Linked DNA regions of Homo sapiens: regions 2, 3, 4, 5, 6 and 7 are each reported to be linked to region 1. Evidence: microRNA targets listed by miRTarBase, many of them from high-throughput screens and not tested one by one. Region 1 holds a microRNA gene; each other region holds the end of a gene's coding sequence.
The links. The annotated mature microRNA hsa-miR-103a-3p reads AGCAGCAUUGUACAGGGCUAUGA and lies in region 1 at 2,130-2,152, shown strand. An mRNA with a match to its seed (bases 2 to 7 or 8) in the 3' UTR can be bound and repressed. Matches are read on the target gene's strand: a 7mer-m8 pairs with bases 2 to 8, a 7mer-A1 pairs with bases 2 to 7 and ends in A, and an 8mer does both.

Region 2: the mRNA of PLEKHF2 is a reported target of hsa-miR-103a-3p. Seed matches in the 3' UTR shown: 8mer at 1,741-1,748.
Region 3: the mRNA of N4BP1 is a reported target of hsa-miR-103a-3p. Seed matches in the 3' UTR shown: 7mer-m8 at 2,612-2,618 and 7mer-A1 at 674-680.
Region 4: miRTarBase lists SYNRG as a target of hsa-miR-103a-3p. Seed matches in the 3' UTR shown: 7mer-A1 at 636-642.
Region 5: miRTarBase lists SLC9A6 as a target of hsa-miR-103a-3p. The part of its 3' UTR that is shown has no 7-base or 8-base seed match.
Region 6: miRTarBase lists IFT74 as a target of hsa-miR-103a-3p. The part of its 3' UTR that is shown has no 7-base or 8-base seed match.
Region 7: the mRNA of UTP25 is a reported target of hsa-miR-103a-3p. The part of its 3' UTR that is shown has no 7-base or 8-base seed match.

The regions. Positions count from the first base shown.
Region 1 is chr5:168,559,815-168,563,055 of GRCh38, reverse strand. It overlaps MIR103A1 (microRNA 103a-1), which reads left to right and starts at 2,083; the gene lies at 2,083-2,160. It overlaps PANK3 (pantothenate kinase 3), which reads left to right. Exons shown (of 7, transcript NM_024594.4): 5 at 1,540-1,663. MIR103B1 (microRNA 103b-1) reads right to left here and starts at 2,152; the gene lies at 2,091-2,152.
Region 2 is chr8:95,154,421-95,157,661 of GRCh38, forward strand. PLEKHF2 (pleckstrin homology and FYVE domain containing 2) reads left to right here. Exons shown (of 2, transcript NM_024613.4): 2 at 1-2,265. The coding sequence ends at 374. Among named protein-coding and RNA genes, the nearest start is that of PLEKHF2, 22 kb to the left of the region's middle.
Region 3 is chr16:48,540,099-48,543,339 of GRCh38, forward strand. It overlaps N4BP1 (NEDD4 binding protein 1), which reads right to left. Exons shown (of 7, transcript NM_153029.4): 7 at 1-3,163. The coding sequence ends at 2,806. Among named protein-coding and RNA genes, the nearest start is that of N4BP1, 68 kb to the right of the region's middle. RefSeq lists enhancers at 1,523-2,023, 2,024-2,524.
Region 4 is chr17:37,516,051-37,519,291 of GRCh38, reverse strand. It overlaps SYNRG (synergin gamma), which reads left to right. Exons shown (of 22, transcript NM_007247.6): 22 at 221-3,241. The coding sequence ends at 352. Among named protein-coding and RNA genes, the nearest start is that of DUSP14, 28 kb to the right of the region's middle.
Region 5 is chrX:136,044,436-136,047,435 of GRCh38, forward strand. It overlaps SLC9A6 (solute carrier family 9 member A6), which reads left to right. Exons shown (of 18, transcript NM_001379110.1): 18 at 17-2,834. The coding sequence ends at 289. Among named protein-coding and RNA genes, the nearest start is that of SLC9A6, 61 kb to the left of the region's middle.
Region 6 is chr9:27,062,411-27,065,410 of GRCh38, forward strand. It overlaps IFT74 (intraflagellar transport 74), which reads left to right. Exons shown (of 20, transcript NM_025103.4): 20 at 208-3,000. The coding sequence ends at 326. Among named protein-coding and RNA genes, the nearest start is that of TEK, 45 kb to the right of the region's middle. RefSeq lists a silencer at 2,841-3,000.
Region 7 is chr1:209,851,110-209,854,350 of GRCh38, reverse strand. It overlaps UTP25 (UTP25 small subunit processome component), which reads right to left. Exons shown (of 12, transcript NM_014388.7): 12 at 1-3,147. The coding sequence ends at 2,904. Among named protein-coding and RNA genes, the nearest start is that of UTP25, 25 kb to the right of the region's middle.

The sequences.
Region 1 (3,241 bases):
ACAGATCATGCTTTCATTTTTCAGGTTTTTTGTTTTTTTTTCCAGAAGGCCCTAATGTCTAATAATCCATCTTTATTTCACTGATTTGAGATGGCTTTTTTACATATGCTGGCTTTTCATTCTGTTGATGTACCAGCATTATACTTTCAGCTTTATAGAGGCATAAAAAGTATGTTTTAATCTCTAGAAGGGCTAGTTTCACTCCTTTGCTTGATTTTCTGTATGAACTTGGCAAACATTTTCTCTATTACAAAAATGTTTTTGGAATCTCAGTAAGTTTACATATTAACTTAGGGACAAATGATATCTTTATAGTAAGTCTTGCTGTTGAAGAACTTAGCTTGTCTGTTTGTTTAAGGCTACTTTTGTGCCTTTCACACATTTAAAAAGGCCTCTCCAAATATGTCCATACATGGCTTTTTAAATTGATTCCTAAATATTTTAAATTTACTGTTCTGTTGTTTATCAGTCTTGTCTCCCATTATGCTTCCTAACCATTGTTGCTTGTGCACCCCAAGTTCTTTGTCAGGGAATCCAGTGCCCTTTGATAGTGGACTTTGTCTCACTCTTCAGTAATATCTCCTGCCTCTCCCTTGCATAGACGCTTCACTCCGACCAAACATCTTGTGATTTCATAGATGTTTTCATTTCTCATTTCTGTGTGCCTTTAACCTTTAGTTGCCTCTGCCTAAGATTTTTCTTCTCATTTTTTCTGGCTTTTTCTGGTCCTTTTGCTCTGAAAGCCCTGCCTCATACCTTCTTAACTTTTTTCTCTTACCACTGTAATAAAAGATATTTTTTTGTTTGTATTTCCAAGGTTAGCCTTTGTTTGGGGTTAGCCTTTGTTTGGATTTTTTCCCTGTTACTGTTAGCGCTTCTCTTGCTGTCTTTTGTATGTAGGCCTGCATTGTCCATTACAGTAGCCTCTAGCCACGTAAGGCACTTGGCTTATGAGTGCCACATGTTGAATTGATGATATTTGGATATATTGGCTTAAATGAAATGTACAATTAAAATTAATTTCACTTGTTTATTTTTACCTTTTTAATGTGGCTAATAGAACATATATGAAATTATATATTACTCGTATTTTATTTCTATTGGACAGTGCTGCACTAGACTAATTCACTGTTTGAGGGACTATCTGTCTCCAGCACAAAGCTTGGTATGTCATAAATGTTTCTTGTGACTGAATGAAAAAGAATTTGAAGTTAAAGCTGAGATACTTTTGGAAACATTTTGTAATTTTGGCTAATTTGTTTTGAATCAGGTTTAAGTGAAGATATTTTGGTAATCTTTGCTTTCTTATAATAACTAACTATGCTTTTTTTGAGATGTCATTTTAACCTTAATTCTTTGAAAGGTATTACTTTACTCTTGCATAGATTTTTTTTGTTAGTTTGTTTTGATCTTATCCCTATGTGTTTCTACTTTTTGGTCCTAATTTTATAAAAATATCCAGGTTGTAGATATATCTGTTAATACGTAAAATGTTGCTTTTTATCAGCAGATTTGACTTTATTTTTCATTTTTCTGCAGTTTTGGGAATATGATTTATAAGGAGAAGCGAGAATCTGTTAGTAAAGAAGATCTGGCAAGAGCTACTTTAGTTACTATCACCAATAACATTGGTTCTGTGGCACGAATGTGTGCTGTTAATGAGGTAAAAAAACAAAAAACACAAAACTTGAATTATCAAAAATGTGAATTGGAGTCCTATATACACCTAGCAGGGCTTCTTCACTTTCCCTAAGGAGGCCTCTGGGATTGAGATGTAACCCATTAAATGCCAAGACTCATTAGGTATATATGTTACGTATCCAGTTGCTATATTACTTTTAAAGAAAGTAGCAGATAATTCAAATTGAAATAGGAGAAATTTATTCAGAATTTTTTTTCAGAAAAACACAACCTAAATCCCTTGAGGATGTAAAAGAAAGTTCTAAGCATAAGACATTTTGAGATACTTTGTGAAAGCATTTTTTTTAGTCTTAATTTTGCATTTGGAAGGCAGCTATGCTCACCACTATACCACCAGTGCTTAATGTTGCATTTGATTAGTGAAATTCTTGGAAGTTTTCTTACTGCCCTCGGCTTCTTTACAGTGCTGCCTTGTTGCATATGGATCAAGCAGCATTGTACAGGGCTATGAAGGCATTGAGACCTGTTCTTCATGATATTTGAGTGGTGTTTATTGTTACAAGAAAAGTGTGAAAAGGATATACTGTTAGATTGACCATATAGTTGGGATTCTTTGTTTGGAAGAGAATATATATATTTAATTCTAGCTTCCTTATATAATAATAGATATATTTGCCCGTTTAATTTTTATAAATATCAAATACTTTAAATGGATTGGGAAGTACGCTTTTCGAAGGAACCCTTCATTTGTTCATTCATTCATTTATTCATTGAGTAAATATTTACTGATTACCAGATGCCAGACATCGTTCTGGGTATTTGGAACATATTAATGAAGAAAACAAAGATCTGGCTTTGTGGAGCTTGCATTCATTCTAGTGACATATTAAGTAAATTGTGTAGTGTGTATTAGGTGATAAGTGCTATTTTTTTAAAAAGAGACCATCAAACAGGATAAAGAGGATTGGGAATAGGGCAGAGAGTGGTAGAGGACAAATTGCTAAGTAATTGAGTGGTTAAAGGAAAGCTTTATTGAAAATGTGATTCTTAGGCAGAGGTTTGAAGGAGGTGAGGGGGAAACTGTGCATGTAGACATTTTGGGGAGAAAGCTTCCAGCAGAGAGAACAAATATGCAAATCCTCTGAATTATTCTGTATTTAAATCCAGAACTTGGTCTCATCAGTTTTTTAATAACTTAGAAACTTAAGTGTTAGTTGGTTGATGGAGTTACTAGTAGACCATGTTGGGAGCTGACAACAATTTGAGACCTTTATTCTTAGCCCTTTATGTCTAAATTTCCACTGACCAATTGAGTTAACAATAATTTAGGCCATGGTTTACAGTATCCCAACTTATGTACAAAGATTTCTACTCAAAAGTCAGTATAGTGTGAGAGTCGAAATAAGTTTTCTGGTGATTCAAACACCAGTTCCCCTTTGTAAGATTTCCTAATCATAGAGATAATCTAAGAAACCAAATTAGTGTGGAATCTTTGCAGAGAGAGAATGATTTGATGAATCAGGCAGGGGACGGAGAAAGAATGCTAGAATCCTAGGGGAATGCACATGCCAGTACCCCAGTCAGTATTACTCTCCAATTC
Region 2 (3,241 bases), not on the chromosome of region 1:
TAAATAAATGTGTTACTGATTTACTCTCCAAAAGTGGGAAGACACCCAGTAATGAACATGCTGCTGTCTGGGTTCCTGACTCTGAGGCAACTGTATGTATGCGTTGTCAGAAAGCAAAATTCACACCTGTTAATCGTCGCCACCATTGCCGCAAATGTGGTTTTGTTGTCTGTGGGCCCTGCTCTGAAAAGAGATTTCTTCTTCCCAGCCAGTCCTCTAAGCCTGTGCGGATTTGTGACTTCTGCTATGACCTGCTTTCTGCTGGGGACATGGCCACATGCCAGCCTGCTAGATCAGACTCTTACAGCCAGTCATTGAAGTCTCCTTTAAATGATATGTCTGATGATGATGACGATGATGATAGCAGTGACTAAGGACACATTTGGGAGTATTTAATCAGGTGTGGCTATCTGAGAAATCAACTTTGGGGGAAATGTAAGATTCTGAGCTCTCTCTCTGTTTTGTTCTAGCCATGAATTTGCCTGAGAAACTTGTAACCTATGTGCCTCAATATATTCCATAGAAAGTAGGTCCCCCTGCCTTCTCCCACTCCTCACACTCTTCTACAGGGATAGGCTTTTGCAAATATATCAGATAAATTTTTTGTTTCTTGTTTATTTTTAGGTTATTTTCTTGGAAGGTTGGGAAAAGATGTTTGTTTTAACAGGTCATGTACTACGTTGTTGTTTTCATTTCTGTTATAAGTAAAACTAAAAGCACAGAATGGTGGGAAAGGGGCTATAATGTGGTTCATTAATAATGTTAGCAGCTTTTTTCTAACCATCCTGTCTAATGGTTAAGACACCAGTAACAAAAACACATGATTTGGAAATACTTTGGCTTTTTCATATACCTAGTGGTGCCTTATCATAATAGCACTGTTACATGAAATAAGCCCCTACCTTCTTACTTTCTGGTTTGTTGAAAAAATACACTGGTGCTCTTTGAAGTGATAAAATGAGTGTTTATGAATGGGTGTAATTAGGAAATACTTCTCATCTGACAGCTACAAATAACTAAGTTTGGAGGTATTTTCACTCTATATGAATAAATATTTTTCCATAAAATAGTTGTGATTATATTTTTGTTTTATATAGGTCCCAAATTATAATTGTCAAATATATATTTTAAATTAATAAAAGTTGTCATTCTTAGGAATTTGGTTTGAAATTTATCAGTTATACAGAATTGTCATACTGCATTAGCTTCTACCTTTAGTAAGACATATTTTTTAGGTATAAATTCTTATGCTTTAACATTATTTCTGGATTGAAAATCTTATAAAACCCTTGAAAATAAACAGTCTCTTTTTTACAAAGCCTGTGTTAGAGCACAGATTTACCTAGGCTTGAAGATTTGGAAGAAATAATATGTAAGAATGGCCTCAAGGCAGACCACTTTAAGTTTGGCTAGACTTCATATCGTGGAAGTATTGTCTATTTCAGTGTGAAACTATCTTGAATTTGCAAATATAGTGTTATATTTTATAAAGTTTTGTAAAATCCCAAACAATATTTCTATTTTTGTAAAACAATTGTATGTATAATCTGTATTTGAAATCATTTTGCAATCTATGGAAATAGAGTAGCAATTGCTATTTCTAAATTGTGAACTTTAAGTCAATCTAGATTTATTTTGAGAAGTAATTGTTCACTCTTTACTTTTGAGGCAGCCATTAGGTTGAAAGTATATATTTATCATATAAAACTTGATGCGTTTTGCACTACTCTTTCCATTTATATGCTGCAAACAACTACAGTCTTTGAAATATGGAAAATCAGCAGTCTAAAGTTTGTTTTAAATTCTAAATTTAAAAAATCTTCAAATCTGAATATACCGCAAATGTCATGAGAAGTTTGATTCAGTAACTTGTGATGGAGGATTCTTTGGTATCTTACTGTTTGGTTAAGGCACTAATTTTACTTACCTATTAGATTTTGAAAGTATCTGAGATATACAAATCTCCCTGTAGGAAATGTGAAAGAAAAGCACAACAAAACTAGGGTTTTTTGTTCATTTGCTTGCTTTTATGATTTTTTTTGGTTTGTTTTAATATCAGGTGGATTTTTGTTTCTAAGCAATATATACATAAAATCAACCAACATATCTGAAAAGGATCATGAAACCTGAGAAATGCTAATGGAGATTTGCTGGTACATAGGAATCTAGCAAATTCAGGAACCAAGGGGAAATGTTGTGAGATAACATTTACATTGTCAACCTTTATTGACTTTGTTTTTACAATAAAAAATATTTTACAACTTACTTTCTGTTCTCTGTATATTGTGACTTGAGGATTTACCCCCTCTGCTAAGATAATAAAGATATTATGCATATTTTGCCTAATAATTCAACAACTGTGAGTGCCTGCTATGTGCCAGGCATTGTTCTAGGCAGTAGGTTAGAGCAGTGAACAAAACTCCCTTTTGGATTTACCGCACGAAGGCTCAGAAAACATTCTTCCAAGTGTTGAAGATATGGCTTAATGTTACTGGGAAGTGCCTTAATATAATTTGGCTTTGCTGTCCAATTACTGTTAGAAGGAATGACTTGACCTGAATTGACATGTCTCAGAAGGAAACATACACATGGCTGACAGGTATATGAAGAAATGTCCAAGATCACTAATCATCAGGGAAATGCAAATTAAAACCACAATGAGATAATGGTAATACCTGATACCTGTTGAATGACTTATCAAAAAGATGAAAGAAGTGTTGGCAAGGATATGCAGAAAAGGAGACCCTTGCACACTGTTGGGAATGTAAAGTAGCACAGCCATTATGGAAAACAGTAGAGGTTCCTCAAAAAGTGAAAATAGAACTACCTATAGCATCTAGCAATCCCACTACTAAGTATATATTAATATCTGAAGAAAATGAGTATGTTGAAGAGATAATCTGTACTCCCATGTTCATTGCAGCAGCATTCACAGTAGCCAAGATATGGAATCAACCTAAGTGTCTATCAACAAATGAATGGATAAAGAAAAGGTGGTCTGTATACACAGTGGAATATTAGCCATAAAAAATTAAATCCTGTTACTTGTGACAACATGGATGGAACTGATGGACATTAAGTGAAATATGCCAGGCACAGAAAGACAAATACTTCATGATCTTGCTTATATGGTGTGGAATCTAAAAAAGTTGAGCTTATAGAACCAGGAGTAGAATGATGATTACCAGGGGCTGGTTGAGGGGTTGGGGGTGGGAGATGCTGGCCAAAGGATACAAAATTT
Region 3 (3,241 bases), not on the chromosome of region 1:
ATGAACAGACGGAGGTGAGCCAGAGACACCTCCTGGGCAAGTCGGCCAGGAGGCGGGAGGCGTGGGTCAGAGACACTGCAGGAACTGGGTGAGGACAAGGAGGTGCGAGGAAAGGGGTTGGGGGATGGTCCCACAGGCAGCCACACCTGAGGCGTGGGAGGCAGGTAGGAGCTGGGGGAGGGCGGGGAGAAGAGGGGTTTCTGTGTGTAGATCTGAGTCCTCCCTCACATCCCAGCCGTGCCACAAGCCGCATCGGCATGAGGCCGGCTCTCCCTTCTTCACTGGTCTCAAAAGCCACCCAGGCCCAAGTCCCGGCCAGACAGCCGAGCCTGCCTAGCAACGCTGACCGGCCGCCCAGGATGGCCCAGACACCTTCTGTCTCCTGAATGCAGCCTACAGGGGTTCAAACAGACTGCTTGCATTAAGGTCAGACAAGGCTCTTTTACTTCCAGAGACAGCGGCCTGGAGCCTCGGGAAGAATGTAGGCCCAGGAATCACCCAGCCCCTCAGGACAACCTCTCTGAGCAACAGACATCCTCCCTGTTGAATGAGAGTGACATCTCTGCCCTGCCACCTACTTTACATGGATGCCACGAAGTGGGAGAGCCTGAGCAGTAGACAGGGAAGAGGCGAGCGGCCCCACTGCAGGAGGTAGACAGGCTACAGATACTTATGCAGCAGCCACACTGAGGCTAGTACTGGAGGAGGCTGAGAACCAGTAATGAGTTCTTAATGGTTTGATAATTTGGGTTTTTAAATATTAAATATTAAATATCAGGGGTTTCGGAAGGAATGATGAATTCCGTCTCATGCTGTAACTGATGAAGGCAACCAATGAGCAATCCTTCCTTCCCATAGCCGAGAAAGGGAAAGGGGACAGGCCAATCCCTCTGAAGCAGTAAGTCAGAACACGAAGACTTACAGAACTCAAACATCAAAGGTCAAGTAGCTTCTAGCCAGGAAAAGTGGTGGCCCCCTCAGCCTAGCCAGCACCAACCAGCATGGGTGGAGACTCAGCCTGGCAGTAAGGGCATTTCCTGGGTTTCCTCTGAAGCAGAGGAGAAATAGTGGGTCAGCCAGGCTGCTGGACTGAACCATGAGCCAGAAGGCCAGAATCACTGCAAGACAGCTCCAGCCCGCACACCTCAGTTGTGCTTTTGAAAACAGGTACAAAGCTGAGGCATGGGAGCTGTGACTGAAGTCGCCCTCCTGGCTGGCCTCGTCTTCTACCTCTGCTTCCACAGCTGGGTGACTTGGCCATAGGCCCAAACAATGGACAACCAGTTCCACATTAGGAGGCATCACGGACGCATCTGAGAGGAAACATGATTGAAGGACAAGCTTGGCCTCATGGAGGGCTCTGGATTCATCCCTTGAAGAACGCAGTGATCAAACAAAACCAAGAAGCAGGCCTGGAGGGAGCACTCTGGGATGCCCCCAAGTCCCCTCACCATTTACAAACCAGCACTGAGTTCTCAGCCTCCGCTCCTCAGGACTAGGAGACAAGATCCGGACAGGCAGGACAGGCAGCAAGCCGACTGTGAGCAGCCTGGGGGCGCAGGTGTAAAATACAAAGCCCTTTGAAGGTCCAGACAATAAGAGTAAAGATGTTAAGATTGCCCAGGAAAAGAACTTCACTGACACTGAATTTGGGCAACACCTAGAACAGACAATATTAAGATATCAATTCTGAGAAAGACTCACAGGAAAGGCTGTTTAGGAGGACACTAGAGACAAACACAGGGAAAATAAATACAGGGGCTCTGGGATCCCCCCACAGAAGCTACTAATGCTATTTATTGGCTTGGGTCACTTTTGAGAATAGAAAACCATTTTTTGGCAAAGCTGTACAAACTCCACATCAGGGCGTCTCCTGCAGTTGGGGACACAAGATGGCCACAGTGACCGGGCTCTTCATTAAACTTCCTCATAACCCGCTACGGTGTTCAGAAGCTAAGACGTGACTTCCAGAGCCAGGCCAGGCATGTGGAGGCCCCTGACTGTGGGCGTGTCAAGCCCTGGCTGGGGAGCCTGCTGCCTGCCCGGCCACTCCTCAGCTGTGGCTGTGGCTGTGGGCATGGCCGGACGGCGTGCACACTGGGCCGTCCCCTTTTGCGCAGGGTGGAAGGGGGAAGGAGGGTGGGACTCCATGGGCTCCACGATGTCTTCTAGCCCTGGTATTCTGTGAGACTAACTTCGCCCTGGTCATTCACCATGGCTAGGCACCAAGTGCCATCTAGTGGCACCGCGGGTCCACTTTCACAACACTCCAACCAAAGACTGCAGAACAAACCAACTCTTACCCACTTTAACTCCGGGGGTGAGGGCAGAGGAGGCTGGAAGGGTGAGCACACTTCATGGTAGTGATGGGACATACTCATCTCAAGAAAATATACTTTAAGACGTCTTGCTTTCCTTAAGAAAGCAACACTTTTTTTTTTATTTATTTATAAAGGCTAACCATATCCATTTGTCAATATTTTCGGCTTTAAGGAAAATAGTTTAAAAAACATAAAAAGGTAAATACACTCAAGAGTAACTGCTATTAAACAGTTCTGAACAGGCAGAAAATGTAGACTTTCCTTTAACAGAAAATGTTAAATCTGTAATAGCAGCATAATTTATATATAGAAAAAAGCTGGTTTTGAAAACCCAGATTTATACCCAAAACATTTTTTTTCTGTACAACTGCGTTTACACTGGGAAATAAGTTTCTTCACATTATGTTCATTCCCATCAGGTACAGGTGTGAGCTTGAGTTTGATCAGCCAGCCCTGAGCGCAAGCTCAGCGCTCAGCACAATCTTCAATCCAACACCATGGCAGAAAGCGCATTTAGATCTTTCATGTATGGGTGGGCCACCAAGATCTGGTCTATTTTCAGTCTTTGCTCTGAGTCAGGGAAGATCTTCAGAAGGGCTTCCCTCAGCTCGTTGGTTTCTGCAGAAGATCTCTGAGCTGGCATGGGCAGGTTCTGCTGGAGACTGGGGAGGGCTGGCAGCAGTGGGAAGTGGGGCTGCTGAGGGAGCCAGTGGCTTGAAGGGGCTCCCTGAATCCGGGTCGGAGGCTGGTGGCTGGTGCTGGCTGCCTGGGTGCCAGGGACTCTGAAGCTGGGGTCAAACATGCCCACATTTGGCAGGGCACTGAGTAGGGGCTGCATATCTCTGTGAATGGAAGTGAGTCCTGGTGAGTTGGGTTATAAGTAAACAAAAAATCATAGAGCTATTTTAGAAGGTACCTGC
Region 4 (3,241 bases), not on the chromosome of region 1:
TGCTGAAACTAGGTTTAGTGGTAACAATTTTATACCTTTAATTAGCAGTAAAAAACCTTCTCTCTTGAATTCCTGTAGCTATCCGCTCAGCTTTTATGTGTGTGCCATTTTGGCCTCAGCCTCTGTGACCTGGAGAGATAGATGTACATGTTGGTTGCTGAAAAGCTCTGAGATGCAGAAAAAGCCTGACTTGCCCCACATCTCTGTTTATTTCTGGCAGGCATTCAACTCAGAAACAGACAGTTTCAAGCTGGCCTATGGAGGGCACCAGTATCACGCCAGCTGTGCCAACTTCTGGATCAACTGTGTCGAACCAAAGCCTCCTGGCCTCGTCCTGCCTGACCTGCTCTGAACAACTCCTCTGTGAAGCATTGACTTTTTTTTTTCTGTGACACCCCACGGGGTGACAGGGACCAATAAATAGAATGCGAGCACTGCACAGTTCGCTTCCCTGAATCGATATGAAGAACACCGCAAGGGACGGGGCCCCCGTCATCCCCACGGCCAGTCTGCAGGACTTCAGGTAAAATTGTCCCACCCAAACTGCACGTGGCACCAGAAGCTTGCTCACTTATCTCTACTTAAGATTTTCTGAAATACGGACCACGGCTTTCTTGATCTAAGGAAGAACTTGCTGCTGCAGTATTGAAACTGTGAAGAACTGACATTTGAAGAAAAATAGATTACCGTTGCGGGACTAGAATGGGCGACTGCTTGGAGCCAGTGCTTGTTTTTATCTAGGACACTTACTGTCCTGTGAAGTAGAATACATTTATCTGCATTTAGTTTGTTAATGTCTGAAATGAATAAAAAGAGGAAATTGCGATTAAACTGATGTTCTGCTTTTTATGGAGAAGATTCTGCCCATCTCCCCTGGACAGTAGCAGGCAGGTGAGGGCAGATTTTACCCACTTGGTTGTCACAACTGAACCAGTTCTCTACTCCTTCCCTTCACTTCTGTCCACTCTCAAGACTTTTTCCCAAAACATGCCTGGGCACTCTGCAGCCGTGAAGAATGCTCATTTTGACAGAGGCCCAAATCCTGTGTATTAGGATAATATCCTTCCCCCCGGGAGCCTTCGCTGCAAACCTGTTCTGCCGCATGCAAAGACTGTGACCATGGAGTTTTCTCAGACAAGATTTGGAAAGGCAGTGGAATGAAATCTCTTTGCAGTGGCCTCTCTCCAAATTTCCAAAGATGACTGCATAGGGACCAACACTGCCTGACTTTGCAGTATCTGTGAGAAAAACCTGAAAATTAATTCAGGGTGAAAATGTGGAGCTCTCGGCCTAGTGTAAAGTATCAAGATGTATATTTATGGGATAGATACATGACTTAGAAGAAGTAGAAGAAAATTGTCCAGAAACAGTACTGAATTTTAGATAGAAAAGGCTCATGCTTCCTGGAGTAGGGAATTGTCTTTGCCATTTAATGTGAATGCATAAAATTAGGGGAAAAACCCAAGTGGCTAAGAGCTGTGTTATTCCTGGGAAGAACTACCAATCTAGGGCACACGTCTCTCTGAATTGTTGATTATGCGCTTTATGAAGAGATTTTTCAATCTCGTGTGCTTTACTTTGTGTGGTTTAGACCCTCTGACCTAGACTTTTATTTTTAAACTGAAAAAGTTGGTCTTGTCTATATAATTGCTGCTTTTACATAATTTATTTTCCCCTCTCAGGACAAATTCTGTCTTGCTCCATCTTACAGCTTTTCCATGTTCTCCAAGAAAGGTGTGGAACATTTTCATTAAACAGCTGTTGCTGAGGCTTCTGCTTGACCTTCTGCGTGCCCGAATGCACAGAGAGGCACCGAGGAGAGAAAGGCTTTTCTCACTCGCTCCCGATGATACCGTCTCTGGCCATTCCTGACTGAGGCAGCTCACTCTGAATGGGCACCTTTGGAGCTTTTGCCCACCACAAGGCTAGTGGGGTGTTTCTAACAACACAAGTGGGACAGCTTTTGGCAGGCTTTTCCTGAGGCCTCGGCGCTTCCATCCTGGACAGCACCACTTCCACATGGAGCTGGAATGCAAGCAGGCTGCTAATTGGCCTTAAAAATTCTTTGTTTTTTTTTGAGATGGAGTTTCACTCTTGTTGCCCAGGCTTGAGTGCAATGGCACAATCTCAGCTCAGTGCAACCTCCGCCTCCCGGGTTCAAGCGATTCTCCTGCCTCAGCCTCGTGAGTAGCTGGGATTACAGGCGTGCACCACCACGCCCAGCTAATTTTGTATTTTTAGTAGAGGCAAGGTTTCTCCATGTTGGCCAGGCTTGAACTCCGGACCTCAGGCGATCCGCCCGCCTCAGCCTCCCAAAGTACCGGGATTACAGGCGTGAGCCACTGCGCCTGGCCTAAATTTCATAACAGAACCATGACAGCAGAATCTACCTTTGCAATAAGAATGTTTCCCAGGAGTTAGAGACCAGCCCTGGGCATGATGGTAAAGACCCCAGCTAATTATACAAAAAATAATTAGCCGGGTAGGTGGAGTGCATCTGTGGACATTCGTGGTCCCAGCTACTAGGTAAGCTGAGGCGGGAGATCACAAGTCCAGGAGTTTGAGGCTGCACGTGACAGCGTAGGTGATGACAGAGCGAGACACTGTCTCTTAAAAAAAAAAAAAAAAAAGTTTCCCAGTTTGAATTTGTATTGCTGAAGCATTTTTTTGAAATGCTATATAGATGCCTGTCATGTCACAGTGGCCCAGTATCAACATTTTAAAAAGCTCACTTGGTAGCTGGGCTGGTTTCTATTCCTGAGAAATTCCAGAATGCCTCAGATAAAATTCCTTAGTATAATCCCCATTTTCCTTACCAAGGATGGTAGGCTTAGTCACTCCTTGGGAGGTGCCACAGGAAAATTCAGCAGATGTCAACAGAAAAAAAGCCTTTGCTATGAAAAGTATTCACTACCTTTCATATCTCTTGAATACTTGAAATGTTTAATTAGATGCCACCAATAGGGATCCAAGGAGTGTGGGACACGGTTGCGCTGCTTTTCTTTATAAACGTTTATTAAAATGGCTCAACGCTGCATTCAGCTTCACCTCAGCTCTTCTTGTCAGCCAGGAGCCCCGTGTCCTTGGAAACTGTAGCCAAGGTTACTTATTTCCATACTGTGCATTGTGTCAGCCCGCTTCACCCCACTGCTTGAATGGCCATTAATAAGCACTTTTCTTTTTTTGGTGGGATGTTTTGCCTTTAAAATTTTTATGGCTTAGTGTGTAATTTAATTTTTGT
Region 5 (3,000 bases), not on the chromosome of region 1:
CTTTATTTGCATTTAGAACCAGGAACAGTTGAAAGATGATGATTCTGATCTTATTCTCAATGATGGTGACATCAGTTTGACATATGGAGATTCTACTGTGAACACTGAACCGGCCACATCCAGCGCCCCAAGGAGATTTATGGGAAACAGTTCTGAAGATGCCTTGGATCGGGAGCTTGCATTTGGGGACCATGAACTGGTCATTCGAGGAACACGCCTGGTTCTTCCAATGGATGATTCTGAACCCCCGCTAAATTTGTTAGATAATACGAGACATGGTCCAGCCTAAGCTTACTAATACTCACTTAGTGATTTGTAAAATTTGCACATGTGATTGTGAAGAAATTTGTACTACCTAAAAGTCCCAGTGCATGTCTCTGAATGTGTAAGCTATATAAATGCTATTTATATGGCATAGAAAGAATATAAATATCCTGTACACGGCAGATTGTGAACAAACTATATTCCTTTAAGTTTTCCTGGTTGCACTCTGTAGACTGGATCTGTTTTAGGAAGTTACTTTCACAGTGATGTTGTGTGTTCTGTTAGTTTTATGTCTCAGTTAAAGTGTAAAAAGTGACGGATTTTCTCTTTCTTAAACTTACCTGACACTTAACCAGAGTACCAGTTCTCGTGATGTGAATTAATTTTTTTGTGTGCTAGGGGAGGGAGAGTGAGGAGGGAGTGTTATTTCCTTGGGAACCTAGGGAGGAGAGGTTCCTTTGTTGGGAAACTTTTGTTGATAGCTGCTGCCTTTGTCCTGATCGTTTTCTTTCCCTTTTCTCTGGTGGCCTGTTGTGGTGCAACGAGCTGATGGCATTTGATCTTGCCCCATTCAGGTTGGGGAGTGAAGTGTGAGGACCCTTTTCCCCCGCTTGCTGTGAAAGCACAGATTCATTGACTACAGTACACTGTTGTTCAGAAAAGAAGGCTGCAAATGACTTCTGAGACTTTATGTCTTTTCTTCCAGACCAAGACCGTAGAAGGAGTCACATCTAGCCGGCTTAGCCAAAGTACAGGTGTATATAGTTCAGGGCACTTGATTTAGATTTGGAGGGGCTGGGGTGGGCAGAGAGCAAGAGGCGAGTAAAGAGAATGGTGGTTTCAGAGATCTCTCTTCCCAAATGTGTAAATATTCTATACCAGATAAGTTTAAATAAGAAATTTAATTGCTGCTTAATTTTTGATTATGTACTTTATCTGTATAGCAGGCTTTGTCGTCAGAAGTTTTTATATCGATTTAAATTGCTGCTCTTTAGCAGCCAAACAGGAGCAAAATGTAAAATTTTTGAACTTACTGTGTCTAATCATCATTTGTTAGTCTGTAGTTAATGTCAACAGTTAATTTATGAACCCACGATCGTTCCACACTGCACCAAAGTCAGTCATAAGAGAAATCGAATATTCTGGAGCACTGATTGCAGCAGGGTGGCTCCTTTGTGTGCAGCAGGTGTAGTAGTCTTCATTTTCATGGTACGTTTTAATATTAATTACCTAAGCTGCCATGCATTTTTTTTTTTACAGTTCTCAAGGAAGAGCACAGAACAATTTCTCATTTCATATTTGGAGTATGAAAGTAGATTCTATTTTGTAATGCTGATAATACCTAAAGATGCATTGAATGCTTGGAAGAATGCTTTTTGATGTTGATTTTGACCTGTTCATGATTCAGAAGAAAAACAAACTTTTTTGGATTTTTTTTCCCTCAGGTCTGAGTAGCATTGCCTTAAATCTTATCCAGTTAGAACATTGATTTATTTACATGATGTTCAGATTTTCCAGTGAAAAATACCCTTCTGAACAAAACATGTACTTACTCTCCGAAAGGCATCTATCTGTGCTATTGCAAACACTCCTTGAGATTTTAGGGGAATTCTAATGTTGTACCCTTTCGTGGCAGCTTTGACTGTTGGCATAGCCATTTGTTATGTAGTGGTAGCGACTTTCCTGCTATGCAGGAATCCCTCCCATGACGTGTATGTTTTACATGATGTGTGCCTCTTCACGCAGTAAATAGTTTCTTGTTAATGTATGTTTGAGGAGTTTGAACGTCAGTGTCACTTACCCACAAAGTTATTCAAGTTGTAAAAGGTTATACAATAATTTAACAACTACCTTTTTTATTCTGTCGGGTTACTGACCTCACTTTATGTAAATACTTCGCATGACAAATTCAGTAACTCGTCTATTTCAGCATGCATAAGACTTTTCACTAGGGAAACTGATAAAGCTTGAGTCAACTAAATCTGCCTTCATACTTTATCAAGGGGAACCAAGCCTGCTGTGCTTACATCAGCATCTGGAAGACTTTCCTCTCCTCTAATCTGTGTACACATCTCCAAGCAAGGAAGAAAAAACAAACTCTGCTCAGACGCCTATGAAACACCTGAATGAACTTTGATGAAGTACAGTCTGAGTTACCATCATGCACAAGTAGAACTGCTCTTGGACTTGTTTTCCTGTTGTTTGTGGAACCTACGCGTTTGAATGGCTTGAACGTTGCATCTTTTAAAGTTATTTTTTAAGGTTTCTTGGCATTTATCCTAGTTGTCCGTGTTTGGCAATGTGCTGTTAAAGTAATAGACTTTTAATCTTTATGTATTTTTTGTTTTCTCTGGAGTACTTGGACAGATGTTATAGTGGTTTCTTTTAGGAAAATCTGTCATTAAAAAAGTTATAGCCTTGCAAATAACCACTCACAGTATTTGAGTCACAGTTTATTTTAGTGAGACGTAAAGAGTGCTGACTTCATTTATTTTTCTACCTATATACCTAGTGGAAAAGGGGAAGACTAATGTTTTCAAATAAACAAACAGAAACCTAACAGAACTTAACTTATGGGTTGGCAAATTTTTGGTGCTTATGTGTAAGGGTGGATGTATTTGCTTATGGTCACAATTGGACTCTTTAGGAAATATGACTCAAAGCTGTCAAATTCTATTACATTGATTTGTAGCCTGTTAGCTTAGTAATGGATAATGTTATAAAAATGCTGGTATG
Region 6 (3,000 bases), not on the chromosome of region 1:
TATATGAATTTTTTGCGGTAAGTTTAGCTTGGCATTTTAGGTTTTAATTGATGCTTAATCTGTTAAAATGATGTACTGTATTTTAAAGTATTCTAATTGTGCTTTTTTGTACCATCTTCAGTATGAAAAATGTCAGTATTTAGTTCCTTTCTCAGGCACAATTAGATTTTTATTGACATTGTTTTCCCCCTTAACTCATGTAATTAGTCATAGCAACCAAGAGTCAAGAGAGTGATTACCAGCCAATTAAGAAAAATGTGACCAAGCAGATTGCAGAGTACAATAAAACCATCGTGGATGCTTTACATAGCACCAGCGGAAACTGAGTTTAAGTCCACTGAAAGTCTCTAAGGAAGTATCCTCTTGCTGCTAAACTTGGTACAAGTTGACTACCAAAAAAAAAAAAAGCTTACTTTTGGAGTTTACCTAAAATTTCTGAATGTTATAATTTTTGTGGCCTCTTTTAAGAATGATATTTTAAAATAGTAAATAGTTCAATAAATGGTTTGCATATTAAAAAGTACCATCTTCTTTTCTTTTTATGCTACTTGTATTTGAACCAAGAGATAAAGAAACTAAAAGTGACCGTTGAAATTTATTTAGCTGGTATAATCCATCTATGGCAACAAATGAGATAAGCTTTTCTTGTATCAACTCTAGGACGGATGCATGGAGTATGATTCTGATTTAGCACTTAGATCAACCTTGTCAATTTTTACTTCTAGAAAAAATTAGTAAGATTAGAAGGGAGATTTTTAGCTTTGAATGTTACTTCTCAAATAGGTTATATTTGATGTGTATTAGACCATATAATGTCACAGGTAAATATATAACATATATTCTTTATATAGCAGTTATACCTAAAGATTTGGAATTAGAAACTTTTAATCTTTGCAATTCTTAAAATATTTTTTCACATATATATACCTGGAAGAACATTAGGTAAAAGACTACATTTATAGTGGGCTGTTTTGGACTATGGCTACTGCTGTTCATTGCCACCCTGCAGTATGCATTTACTCTCTTGTACTATTAGGAGAACTTAAGTAGATTAATTTATAAACATTAGCCAGAATATTTGGGGAAAAAAGCTAGAAGAGGTAGGATTGGGAGAGAGGCATAGAGTCTGGAAGACATTATATTAACTGTAGATGTATCTTCTCTTATCGTGCAGGAATGAGTCACCTTGGCCAGCATAAAATATTACTTAAAACTATCCTGTTTTTGCTCTGATATCATGTTCACTAAGTAACTCTACTTTTCAGTATTTCTGAAACAACACATTGATTTCTTAAACCAAAATAGCTTTATTGAGATATTATTTACATACTTTAAAATTTACTCATATATGTTGATTTTTAAAAATAAATATTTATAATGGTAAATTATTCAAATTCAGTCTATATACATTTAAATAAAGGAGTGAGCATTGTTGAGTTTGCTGAACTCTGGATTACTAATATGGCTGAAGATCCTGGACATTCATTAAGGTAGCATTCATAAAATGTGTTCCATAAATCCTGAGCATCTTGAGTTATTAATAGTGTTATGCCTCCAAAGGATTCATGGTCAAAGAAGTTTGGGAAACGTTGTCTGAAACAAAGGTGAATTATTTTATTTTTTCTTGACTGCTCATAACCCTTAATATGCTAATGTATAATAAGCTCAAGAAGAATATATACTGTAAAGCATTTCCCAGAGATAGTTGTCCACAAAACCCTAACTTTCACAGAGCCTAGGTCACATGAGATGTGTCATTCCAAGAAATAGACTTTGTACACCAAATAGACTTCATACACTAAAATAATTTCATCTACTCAAGTCCTCTGGGTGGCTCTATGGCCTTTTTCAGATGACTCCTGAGTATGTCTCTTTTTAGCCACCCTCAGCTGTTTTATGCTGTGATTGTATGGGGTTTTCTATTGGAAATTGGTAGCAGAAAGTGCTTATAAAATTTCACAAGGGAAAAAAACTCTTTTAGCAGTTAAAGAGAATGAAATCTGAAATTCAGTAGATAAAACAGGTAATAGATTTTGATGACAGTTTGCAGCCCTTCGTTCATTCATAAAGTATTACTGTAATTTGGTGATTAGGAGCCTTTATGGATATACCCGACTGCTGAAAAACATTCATCTTTTATACAGTAACAAACAGAGGTATGATTGAGCATAGAGTTTAGGCAAGAGAACTGACTACTATGGTCTCTTAATCACATTGATTCTATTTCGTGGATACTTCCAAGGAGGAAGGGAATCTGGAAAACATGTTTGTGGATAGGTAATCTTTGTTTTCCTCATTTGAAAGCAAATTTAAATGCCTTTACTTTTTCCTTAGGTTTTTTTTTATGATTTCTACTTAAGTGTTCTTGACATTTTACTGCACCCTTTTAAATAACCAACTTAGTAATTTTTACTATTAGTAATAAGGGTTTTTTTCTGAGTGGTGGGATTATGGGTGATTGTAATCTTCCTTGGGCTTTTTGGTATTTTCAAAATTGTCTGTGATGTACATTTAATACTTAGAAATGCAATAAAATTCAAATAAAGTACTATATGCAGTTACTACTTTAACTGACAGAAAGGATGTAGTAAAAACTCTTAAGTCCTTGACTCTAGAACTGAACCAATCTTTACGCAGAAAGAAAGTAGGAGGAAGATTGGCCTGTCCATTAAATATATGTGTTTGCATTATAACAATGGGAAATTTGGCAGGAAAAAAATTTCTTGACAAAAAGCAAGGCTTTCAATTTCCATCCTAATTTATTCATATGTAATATTGGTGGGGGGCAAATAATTGAGCAGGATTTCTTTAAATTAAAACATGTTTTATCTGAGGGAAATTCTCACTAATGTCTCTCTTCCTTCCTCTGAGAGCCTTTCCACAAATCCAACAAGAATATTCTCTTTACTGGGATAGAACTGGAGGCTAATAGCTGCATGAACTGGCTCTTCCTGAGTCAGTCACATTACTCAGGGGGTTCCATTCATGCTAAAATAACAC
Region 7 (3,241 bases), not on the chromosome of region 1:
CCACGATTCAAAGCTTTTTCTCTCTCAAAAAGAAAAGTGCTAAGCTGGTTGTTTTAACTATGGGAAAAGAAAAAACATTTAAAAGTGTTACTTTCTGGGTAAGTTCCTTTCCATACCTTTTAATTCCACTGTTTCCAGGATTGGGACCATCCTTTGTCTATATTTCAGACCCTATATAGGCACTTGCTTGCTGCAAATGAGCCTTGTTAACATCAAGGTAGTGTGTAATTCCAGCTCACGCATCCGTATTTCAGTAGCCTCTCTTCTCGCTTATTGTGTGTTGAGAGAGACCAGATCTTCAAGGCATCCTTTTAATAAAACCATTGCAGAGACTCCACTCTGCAATGCACTAAGGAGCCAGGGCTAACTGCAGAGGCTTACCTTCTTTTCAGGTGCTGAGCCAGGAACAAAGCAACACTACTTTGTTCACACTTGAAATCCTCAGTGTTCTCTGCAGGCAAGAAGCAGTTGGCTGGGTTTGGCTCTATGCCAGCATGAAAATCACTAGGGGTGCTTAATAAAATGGTTATTTCTGGGGCTACATCATGGATTTGAAATCCAGACTCACATGTGAGTGGAGAGCCAGAGAAGCTGGAGATTTGGGAGTCGTGTGAATAGTAATAATGGAAACCACGAGATGAACTACAATTCACAGGCAAAAGAATATGGCAGTAGAAAAAGATGTAGGTAATTGGCCAGGCGTGGCGGCTCAGGCCTGTAACCCCAGCACTTTGGGAGGCTGAGGTGGGCAGATCACTTGAGGTCAAGAGTTTGAGACCAGCCTGGCCAACATGGCAAAACCCCATCTCTACTAAAAATATAAAAAATTAGCTGTGCATGGTGGCATGCGCCTGTAGTCCCAGCTACTTGGGAGGCGGAGGCACGAGAATCGCTTGAACTCGGGAGGCACAGATTGCAGTAAGCCAAGATCATGCCAGTGTACTCCAGCCTGGGCAACAGAGCGAGACTCCATCTCAAAAAAAAAAAAAAAGATCCAGGTAATTACAGTCCCTTCGCCTCACATTTCTGAATGAGGTAAATAAACTCATTTCTTATTCTCATAATATACAGGATCTATGATAAACAGCAGCACAATTACGCCAGTAACCACAGGGCATGCCTATAGATACAAAAAGTTCTTTGTAGCATGGGTTCGGTCGGCTTTTATCTAACTAAATTTTCTGAAATTTAGAAAACCATCTAAATATGGAATAAATGGTTTTACTTACCATGCTGAAGAAAAAGAAGTAAAAATGTCTAAATATTTAGCAGAAATATTACTTCAAAACTGATTTTACTTTTTGTTTTTGCTAAGTAATTTTAAGCGTGCCCAAGGATAAAAAAAATCTGTACCAATCATGGGTTATTACATTGAGGATAATGGGAGCCACTGTCTGAGAAAGGAGTTATCAATATGGAAAGAAAATGAGAAGCAATCCTGTGTTGTTGGACTAGAATTGGAGGTACTGGTGTGAATTCATGGTTTTCAATATATGGATATGAAAGTAAATTTAGATATTAATGTGAAGCAAATTTAGACAACGTGTGTACATATGTGTGTGCATACATGTACACAATTCCCAAGTTCTGACCACTGAGCCTGGGATGAGTGGCACCACAATAGTAAGCACTCCAATCTAACCTTTTATAATAATTTCCTACTAAAAGCAAGCAGGGCTGGAGTAGAGAAACCTGGAATGTCTCATTGTCAAAAAATACAGCAGTGCCCAAGTAGATGGGGGACATGTCAAAAGTACACAGGGGCTAACCTGAAGGTGCTCCCAGCGGCCATATTTGAGACCAGTTACGCATCTAAAGAAATAATGATGTAACAAACCGTAACCCATTGAATAAAAGAAGAAACTACGAGTCCATACTAGGATGAGTTGAATATCTCTTATCTGAAATGCTTGGGACCAGACGTGTTTCGAATTTTTTTGGATTCTGAAATATTCACATTATCCTTATTGGTGGGGCATTCCTAATCACAAACAATACCCTTAATTGTTTACAGGAAATATATACTAAAGTATTTAAAGGTGATAGGCCCACTGGGTTGGCAACTCACTCTCAAATGGTTCAGGTTCTGTACTTGGAATTTTTCTGTTTGAGAATGTTTCAAAATAAAAATGTTTTTAAAAGTGTAATTTCCTTTTTATTTGCATCTGTTTATGACTGAAAAAATGACTAGTTATTATGAAGACACTACTGTTGAAGATGGATATTTTAACATGGAGTTTCAACAAAATTACTTCTTGAGACAGAGCTGATGTGTTTTTTAAATAACGTGATTTTAAGCATATATTTGAACAAAACTAAAACATTTAGTATTATGAATATGAAAAAAGATCAGTAAATCAATGTACTCTTCTAGGCTGAATTAAGGTAGACTATTTAAGGTTTCAAAAAAGTTTGGCTGGGGCAGAATAAGTTTTACAAAACCCATGCCATCCAAAATTAAGATGACATGTAGCAGCAAGAAGTATTCCAATGTCTCATAACCAGTTCTCGCAAGCAATGTGTATTCCTTACTTTAAGGAAGTGTCAAACAAATAGAAAAATCTGGAAGAATTTACTAAGTGTAATAAATTAGAGGTAAATCGTAATAAAAGAATTTATGTCTCACAAAAATATTCACAAGTGGGAGTTTTCTTCTACCAACTTCTCAGAGTCCTTCTAGCCCCCTCTTCACTTCTGAAAGATGGGATTTACCAAAATCTGGTTTACATTTAACTTTTCAGGGACACATGACCTGAAAAGAAAGATGTCAGATAATACTGACATTGCCTCATGCACTTTCTTTGTATCAGTCCTTCTTCTGTAAGTAATCAGAATTGGGTCCAAATGGCATAGAATCAAACATTATGTATCATGCCAAATACCACTTCCTGCCCAACAAAATTTCATTTTTCTCCAGTAATGAAGAGGTGGACATTCTTGTTGGACTGTAGCATCTGTGCCGCCCGCTCCACACCAACCACGGCAGCTAACCTCTGGGCATCATATTTGGAGTAGAGAACAGTGCAGGTCCACGTGGCCTCTTCTCCTCTGTTGGTGGCTCTCAGCATATTACAGATTTCACTGTAAAAGTGTGGATATGTCGGCAGTTCATAGAAAATCAGGTTCCTGATGCCTTTTATTGTATACCTGTCAGAATTGGAAAGAAAGAGCTATGTCAACTTGAGAAACAAGTTCTAGAAAAACTACCTAGGAGTTGTACAGAGGCATAGTTCATGCTTGT